Homo sapiens: one gene and its partner. The protein of the gene in region 1 purifies or fractionates together with the protein of each later gene. This does not show direct contact. Each region holds a gene or a part of one and is shown in the gene's direction. Other genes may lie near its edges.

The links.
Region 2: the proteins of METAP1D (region 1) and CRAT purify together in Homo sapiens (affinity purification with mass spectrometry; one large-scale study listed by BioGRID and IntAct). This does not show direct contact.

Annotation. Positions count from the first base shown.
Region 1 is NC_000002.12:172,006,203-172,010,020, forward strand, and holds part of METAP1D (methionine aminopeptidase 1D, mitochondrial isoform 1 precursor), read left to right. Parts: intron 1-3,818. UniProt on the Homo sapiens protein: Removes the N-terminal methionine from nascent proteins. The N-terminal methionine is often cleaved when the second residue in the primary sequence is small and uncharged (Met-Ala-, Cys, Gly, Pro, Ser, Thr, or Val).
Region 2 is NC_000009.12:129,097,533-129,101,100, reverse strand, and holds part of CRAT (carnitine O-acetyltransferase), read left to right. Parts: intron 1-411; coding exon 412-590; intron 591-1,134; coding exon 1,135-1,235; intron 1,236-2,450; coding exon 2,451-2,570; intron 2,571-2,729; coding exon 2,730-2,852; intron 2,853-2,952; coding exon 2,953-3,088; intron 3,089-3,568. UniProt on the Homo sapiens protein: Catalyzes the reversible transfer of acyl groups from carnitine to coenzyme A (CoA) and regulates the acyl-CoA/CoA ratio. Also plays a crucial role in the transport of fatty acids for beta-oxidation.

The DNA of each region.
Region 1 (3,818 bases):
AGACGAAGTCTCGCTCTGTCACCCAGGCTGGAGTGCAGTGGCGGGATCTCGGCTCACTGCAAGCTCCGCCTCCCAGGTTCATGCCATTCTCCTGCCTCAGCCTCCCAAGTAGCTGGGACTACAGGCACCTGCCACCACGCCCAGCTAATTTTTTGTATTTTTAGTAGAGATGGGGTTTCACCGTGTTAGCCAGGCTGGTCTCGATCTCCTGACCTCGTGATCTGCCTGCCTTGGCCTCCCAAAGTGCTGGGATTACAGGTGTGAGCCACTGCGCCTGGCCAATATTTATAGTTTCTATGAAATACCCGCTTTCCTCAAGCATTAGAAATCCATAAAAATCAGTGTGGATGCTATATATCTTAGGGAACTTGGCAAAGATGGGAGAAGTACTATGTGTATGCAGAACTTCATTTGAACAACATCTAGTTTTAAGCTGAAACAGCTTGTTTTTACGGAGACTGAATTTTCTTTTTTAGCTTTTGAACATGGAGACAGTTAAACATAATGCAAAAGTAGAGAGAATAGTACAATGAACTCCCACGTAGCCATCATCTAGTTACAATAGTCATCAACCTATGGCCACTATTGTTACATCTATACTCCCAGTTACTTTGCCTCCCCACAGGTGGATTATTTTGAAGCACATTCCAGATATATTATTTCATCTGTAGATTTTTTACCGTGTATCTCTAAAAGATAGGGAGCCATTTTTTTCTTCTTACGTTGTACATATCAGTTCTAGAATTTGCATTATAATTTCCATTTCTTGTTGAGATTTCCCACCTGTTCACTCATTATGTTCATCTTTTCCTTTAAGTACTTGAACATACATATTTATAACAGCTTTTTAAAAATCTGTTAATTTTATTATTGGGTCTCCTCAGAGTCTGTTTCTGTTTTGTTGACTGCTGTTTTTTTTTTTATTGTACATTACGTTTTCCTGCTGCTTCCCATGTCATGTAATTTTTTTTTTTTTTTTTTTTTAAGAGAAGGGCCTTGTTCTGTCACCCAGGCTGGAGTGCAGTGGTACAATCATAGCTCACTGCAACCTCAAACTCCTGGGCTCAAGCAATCCTCCTGCCTCAGCCTTCCAAGTAGCTGGGACTATAGGCGCACACCACCATGTCTGGCTAATCATGTAATATTTAATTTTATAAGTGGCATGACAGATAATATCTTGGTGGAGATTATGTTGTTTTTCTTTAACATATGTTTTAAACAACTGCCAGGCAATATGTTAAATCTGTTTGATTCTTTCAGGCTTGGTTTTTATTCTCTGTTAGGATGGATCTATTTGTGTTTTGCTGTTAGTTCTAGGGGGTGGCTGAGGCCAGTGTGGGCTCATGTGTTGTATTGTTTTCTTTTAAGGTTCATGGTCCTGCATTGCCTAATATCCAGTGCCAAGATATAGTTGCTTCACATATTTTGTCTAATTGGTTAAGACAGGTGGGAATTCTAGTACCAGTTATGCTGGAATGGATGGAAAAGGATATTAATTTTGTTTTTTTTGAGACAGAGTCTCTGTTGCCCAGGATGGAGTGCAGTGGCGCATTCTCAGCTCACTGCAACCTTCTTCTCCTGGGTTCAAGCAGTTCTCCTGCCTCAGCCTCCTGTGTAGCTGAGATTACAGGCGCATGCCACGACACCCGGCTAATTTTTGTATTTTTAGTAGAGACGGGGTTTCACCATGTTGGCCAGGCTGGTCTCCAACTCCTGATCTCAAGTGATCCACCTCAGCCTCCCAAAGTGCTGGGATTACAGGCATGAGCCACCGCGCCTAGCCGGATATTATTATTTTTTTTAATCTATAAGTTTACTTTCCCTTTTTTTTTTTTTTTGAAAATTATTTGTTGAAGCAACTGGTTAGCCTATTGGTTCTGTGGAGCTTTGCATTTTGTGGATTTTGCTGATGGTATTATATTCCACAGGGCTTGTTGAAGATGTTCCTCTATAAAATGGTAGTTAGATCCAAGGCCTGATTTAAGTTAGACATTTTTTGGTACAAGTACTTCATAGTGGTGTTGCTGGAGACATTGTGGCCTGGAGACATTGGAGACATTAGTGGCCATTGGCAATCATGACCTGGCTCATTAGGAGTTTACAAATGACAATATTTTAATTACTCCTTCTTTATTTATCAGCTAGAAAACATCTACAAAGAGAAACTTTCTCATCAAGTATTTCATTACCCTGACAGGCCCTGTCCCAGCAAGGAAAGTTAAATGGTTTGTTCTCCTTATTTATCAGTTTTTAAAATACCATAGTCCCCCGCTTATCCAATGGGGGTATGTTCCCAGACCCTCAGTGGATGTCTGAAGCCACAGATGGTACTGAACCCTGCACGGTGCTGTACTATGCTTTTTCCTATACACACATTTCTGTGGTAAGGTTTAATTTATAAATTAGGCAGAGTATGAAATTAACAACAATCACTAAAAATAGAACAATTTTAACAATATACTGTAATAAAAGTTAGGTGAATGTGGCCTTTCTCTCAAAATATCTTTTTCACTGTGCTCACCCCTTTTTTTTTATGATGATGTGAGATGATAAAATGCTTACGTGATGAAGTGAGGTGAATGAGAAAGCATTGTGATGTAGTTTTAGACTACATGTCTGAAGGAGAATCATCTGCTTCAGGTGATCCTGGATCACTAAGCCATGACATGATGTCAGAAGCAGAGAATGTGGATGACTAATGGGTTGCTAGTGTGCAGGGTGTGGACCTGCTGACAAAAGGGAGGATTCATGTCCTGAGCAGAATGGAGTGGGCCAGTGTGAGATTTCATCACGCTGTGCAGAACGGTGTGTTTGTGAATTGTTTATTTCTGGAATTTTCTTTCTTTTTTTTTTTTTGAGACAGAGTCTCGCCGTGTCTCTCAGGCTGGAGTGCAGTGGCGCGATCTCTGCTCACTGCAAACTCCACCTCCCGGGTTCCCGCCATTCTCCTGCCTCAGCCTCCCGAGTAGCTGGGACTAGGGGCGCCCACCACCGCGCCAGGCTAATTTTTTTTGTATTTTTTAGTAGCGACGGGGTTTCACCGTGTTAGCCAGGATGGTCTCGATTTCCTGACCTCGTGGTCCGCCCACTTCGGCCTCCCAAAGTGCTGGGATTACAGGCGTGAGCCACCGCGCCCGGCCTGGAATTTTCTATTTAATATTTTTAGACCTTGATTGACCTTGGATAACTGAAACTCTTATCTAAGAGGAGACTACCGTAACAGGTTTATCCTCCAAAAGTGACCAATGAATTTTTGTTTCGGGTCATTATATGGGTTAATTTTTTTTATATGGGTTTATTTTTAATTGTGTATCTACTTCTTTAATTTTCTGAAAGTATATGAAACGTCATGGAGCATTGAAATTGTGAGGCAGGATTGCAAGATTCAAGATAGAAGAGCTATTGACAGAAGTAGCATTTCTAATATATGGAATTTAAGAAACTCTTACTATACCTTAATGTTAGAGTGGAAGACTGTAGGGTAAGAGAGGATTAACAAGAAAGTGAGATGGTGTCTCCATTTTAATCTGCTGCTTGTGTGTTCTGAATGTATTGGAGAGGGAAAGCCATTGCAGTCAGTTAGAAGATAATGGCAGAAACAGAAGGACCTGAACTAGGGTAATGACTGCGGGATGGAAAGGGAGAGATGGATGCCAAGGAAATGGTACAGAGGAGAAATCATCATGACCTGGTGGTTTGCTGGAAAGGAGACCCGAGGAAGGGAAGGGGCATCAAAGCAGAAAAGGAGGAGTTGGCAGGAACAGAGAACTTAGTAGGGAAAAGAGTCTCTAAGATGAAATTGCAGGATGACTAAGTAT
Region 2 (3,568 bases), on another chromosome or scaffold:
CCACCCGCCTCCACACCCCCTGTGCCCCCAAGTACCAGCAGTCCTCCAAAGCATGTCTTGCTCAGGGGCATTGACCCCAAAGTCAGACCACCTGTGTGGGTTCCCCGGCTGCCACACCAGCTCCCATGTGACCCCTGGGCTTCGGTTTCCTGTGTCTAAAGTGGGCCAGGTGTTGGGCCCTGCCTCGAGGAGTGCTGTGGGCCTGCAGGGTCCTGTTGAGTTCGAAGCTCTGAACCCACACCCTGCACTTGGTGAATGCCCTGGAGGGCCGGCGAGGTGGGGGGTCTCCTCATCCCAGAGAGGTACAAATGGGTCAGAAGAGCCCAGGGCAGGAGGCTGCGGAGGGGCTGGTCCATCTCTCCCACACCATGAGACCCCATTTTGCGTCTCCCCGCCCCATGCCACCTGCAGACAAGGTGAACCGGGATTCCGTGCGCTCCATCCAGAAGAGCATCTTCACCGTGTGCCTAGATGCAACCATGCCCAGGGTCTCAGAAGACGTGTACCGCAGCCACGTGGCAGGCCAGATGCTGCATGGGGGCGGCAGCAGGCTCAACAGCGGCAACCGCTGGTTCGACAAGACGCTGCAGGTGAGGCCCGGCAGGGCTTCGCCCACTCACACACACCTGAACAGGACCTCTGCAGCCTCGGGACTTCCTGCCCGTCCCCGGCCCTGCGTCCCCAGCCTCCTAGCTTGTAAAGCAGGCAGGAAGCCAGCAGGCTGGACGCTGCCGTAATTACCAGGCAGCCAGCCTGTCATCACCAGTCCTGCCTCTGGCCTGGAAACCGCTGTCACCCCCAGCACACCCCCTCAGCACCTCACAGAGAACCTGGGATCCGGGGTCACCAGTGCAATCCTGGCACAACAGTCCCTCTCCACACCTGTAAAATGGGGTGATGGTCAACCTCACCGGTAGAGTAGTTTGAAGGACTCAGTCAGGCACGCTGAGCGTGGGATGTGCTTAGCACACCAGGGCACCTGGTGAGTGTCAGCTATTGTTAATAACAGTAATAAGTCATCATAGCCCCTTGAGATGGCTTCAGAGAGGCCCTTGCCTCAACCAAAGAGTGGTTGGGTGAGGGGCCACCCCCCAGGGCCCTGGGGCTGACCGGGGTCTCCCTTCCCTTCCACAGTTCATCGTGGCAGAAGATGGCTCCTGTGGGCTTGTGTACGAGCATGCTGCAGCGGAGGGGCCCCCTATTGTCACCCTTCTGGACTATGTCATCGAGTACACGTGAGTACAGTCACATCTCTCGCCTAGTTCCCCAGCTTCTAGTGACAGGTGACACACAGGTGATAGACCAGCTTATAGAGAAATATCACTCTCCTTTGTGCCTGGGAATCTGTTTTTTTCCAAGGAAGCCAGCCAGATATGGTGGCTCACGCCTGTAATCCTGACACTTTGGGAGGCTGAGGTGGGAGGATCAATTGAGGTCAGGAGTTTGAGATCAGCCTGGCCAACATGGTGAAATGCCATCTCTACTAAAAATACAAAAAAAAAAAAAATTACCCAGGTGTGGTATCACATGCCTATAATCCCAGTTACTCAGGAGGCTGAGGCAGGAGAATTGCTTGAACCCAGGAGGCAGAGGTTGCGTTGAGCGGAGACTGTGCCACTGCACTCCAGCCTGGGTGACAGAGCAAGACTCTGTCTCAAAAAAAAAAAAAAAAAATTAGGCCAGGTGCAGTGGCTCATGCCTATAATCCCAGCACTTTGGGAGGCGGATCACCTGAGGTCAGGAGTTCAAGACCAGCCTGGCCAACATGGTGAAACCCTGTCTCTACAAAAATTAGCCAGGCATGATGGCGGGTGCCTGTAATCCCAGCTACTTGGGAGGCTGAGGCAGGAGAATCGCTTGAACCCGGGAGGCAGAGGTTGCAGTGAGCTGAGATCACACCATTGCACTCTAGCCTGGGTGACAGAATGAGACTCTGTTTCAAAAAAAAAAAAAAAAAAGTTAGCCACGCGTGGTGGTGGGTGCCTGTAATCCCAGCTACTCAAGAGGCTAAGGCACAAGAATCACTTGAACCCAGGAGGTGGAGGTTGCAGTGAGCCGAGATCGTTCCATTGCTCCAGCCTGGGTGACAGAGCAAGACTCTGTCTCAAAAGAAAAAGAAAAAAATTAGCCAAGGTGGCGGGCATCTGTAATCCCAGCTACTCAGGAGGCTGAGGCAGGAGAATCGCTTGAACCAGGGAGGCCAAGGTTGCAGTGAGCTGAGATCACATCACTGCACTCCAGCCTGGGCAACAGAGCAAGACTCCATCTAAAAAAAAAAAAAAAAGAAAAAAGAAAAAAAAGCTGAAGTGAGGGTGGTTTTCAGAACAAACTCACACCTCCCTGGGCTGGCCCCCTCCAGCTTCAGGTACCCATCCTCCCCACCCTGGTCCCAGAATGGACCCAGGCTCTAGAGGCACCAGCATGAGCCTGAGGCCCCGTTTACTGTGCAGGAAGAAACCCGAGCTTGTGCGGTCTCCCCTGGTGCCCCTGCCCATGCCCAAGAAGCTGCGGTTCAACATCACCCCCGAGATCAAGAGCGACATCGAGAAGGCCAAGCAGAACCTCAGCATGTAAGTGCCTGCCCCCGCCATCCCTGTGCTGGATGGGTGAGGCCAGGCCCTTGAGCTTGAGAGGCTCCTGTGCCAGCTCTGTCATGACACCCAGACCCTCCGTGGGGTTGGCAGGGGCTGCCGGGGCCTGCTCCTCACCTGCTCTTCCCACACCCCCAGCATGATCCAGGACCTGGATATCACCGTGATGGTGTTCCACCATTTTGGAAAAGACTTCCCCAAGTCGGAGAAGCTAAGCCCAGATGCCTTCATCCAGATGGCTTTGCAGCTGGCCTACTACAGGTGCGCCTCTGTGGCCCACCCATGGAGGAGGGAGGAGACCTGGGGGCAGGGGAGGGGGTGCCCGCCTCCAAGGGGCGTGCTTAGCCCCATTTCCCACCAGGATCTACGGACAGGCATGTGCCACCTATGAAAGTGCCTCCCTGCGCATGTTTCACCTGGGCCGCACCGACACCATCCGCTCGGCTTCCATGGACTCACTCACCTTTGTCAAGGCCATGGATGACTCCAGCGTCACGGTGAGAGGTCTGGGGCGAGGGTGGGTGAGCTGGGCCTGAGCCCCTCCCTCCTGCTCACTCAGTCAACACACAATAATTGAGCACCTACAGGATTCCAGCCCCATGGTGGGCACGGGGAATCTAACAGAAGCTGGAGCCGTGAATCTAGCTCTGAGCTTCCTGGGGACCAAAGAGGAAAAGGGAGTCATTCATTTGTTCATTCATTTATTCATTGGCAGTAAGCAACTGCCCTATGTCAGGCCCTGGCTGAGGACCAAGGAGTTGGTAGTTGCAATACTCGCTCTTTTTTTTTCTTGTTTTTTTTTAGAAAGAGTCTCACTCTGTTGCCCAGGCTGGAGTGCAGTGGTGTGATCTCGACTCACTGCAACCTCCACCTCCCGGGTTCAAGCAATCCTCCTGCCTCAGCCTCCCAAGTAGCTGGGACTACAGGTGCCTGCCACCATGCCCGGCTAATTTTTGTATTTTTAGTAGAAACGGGAT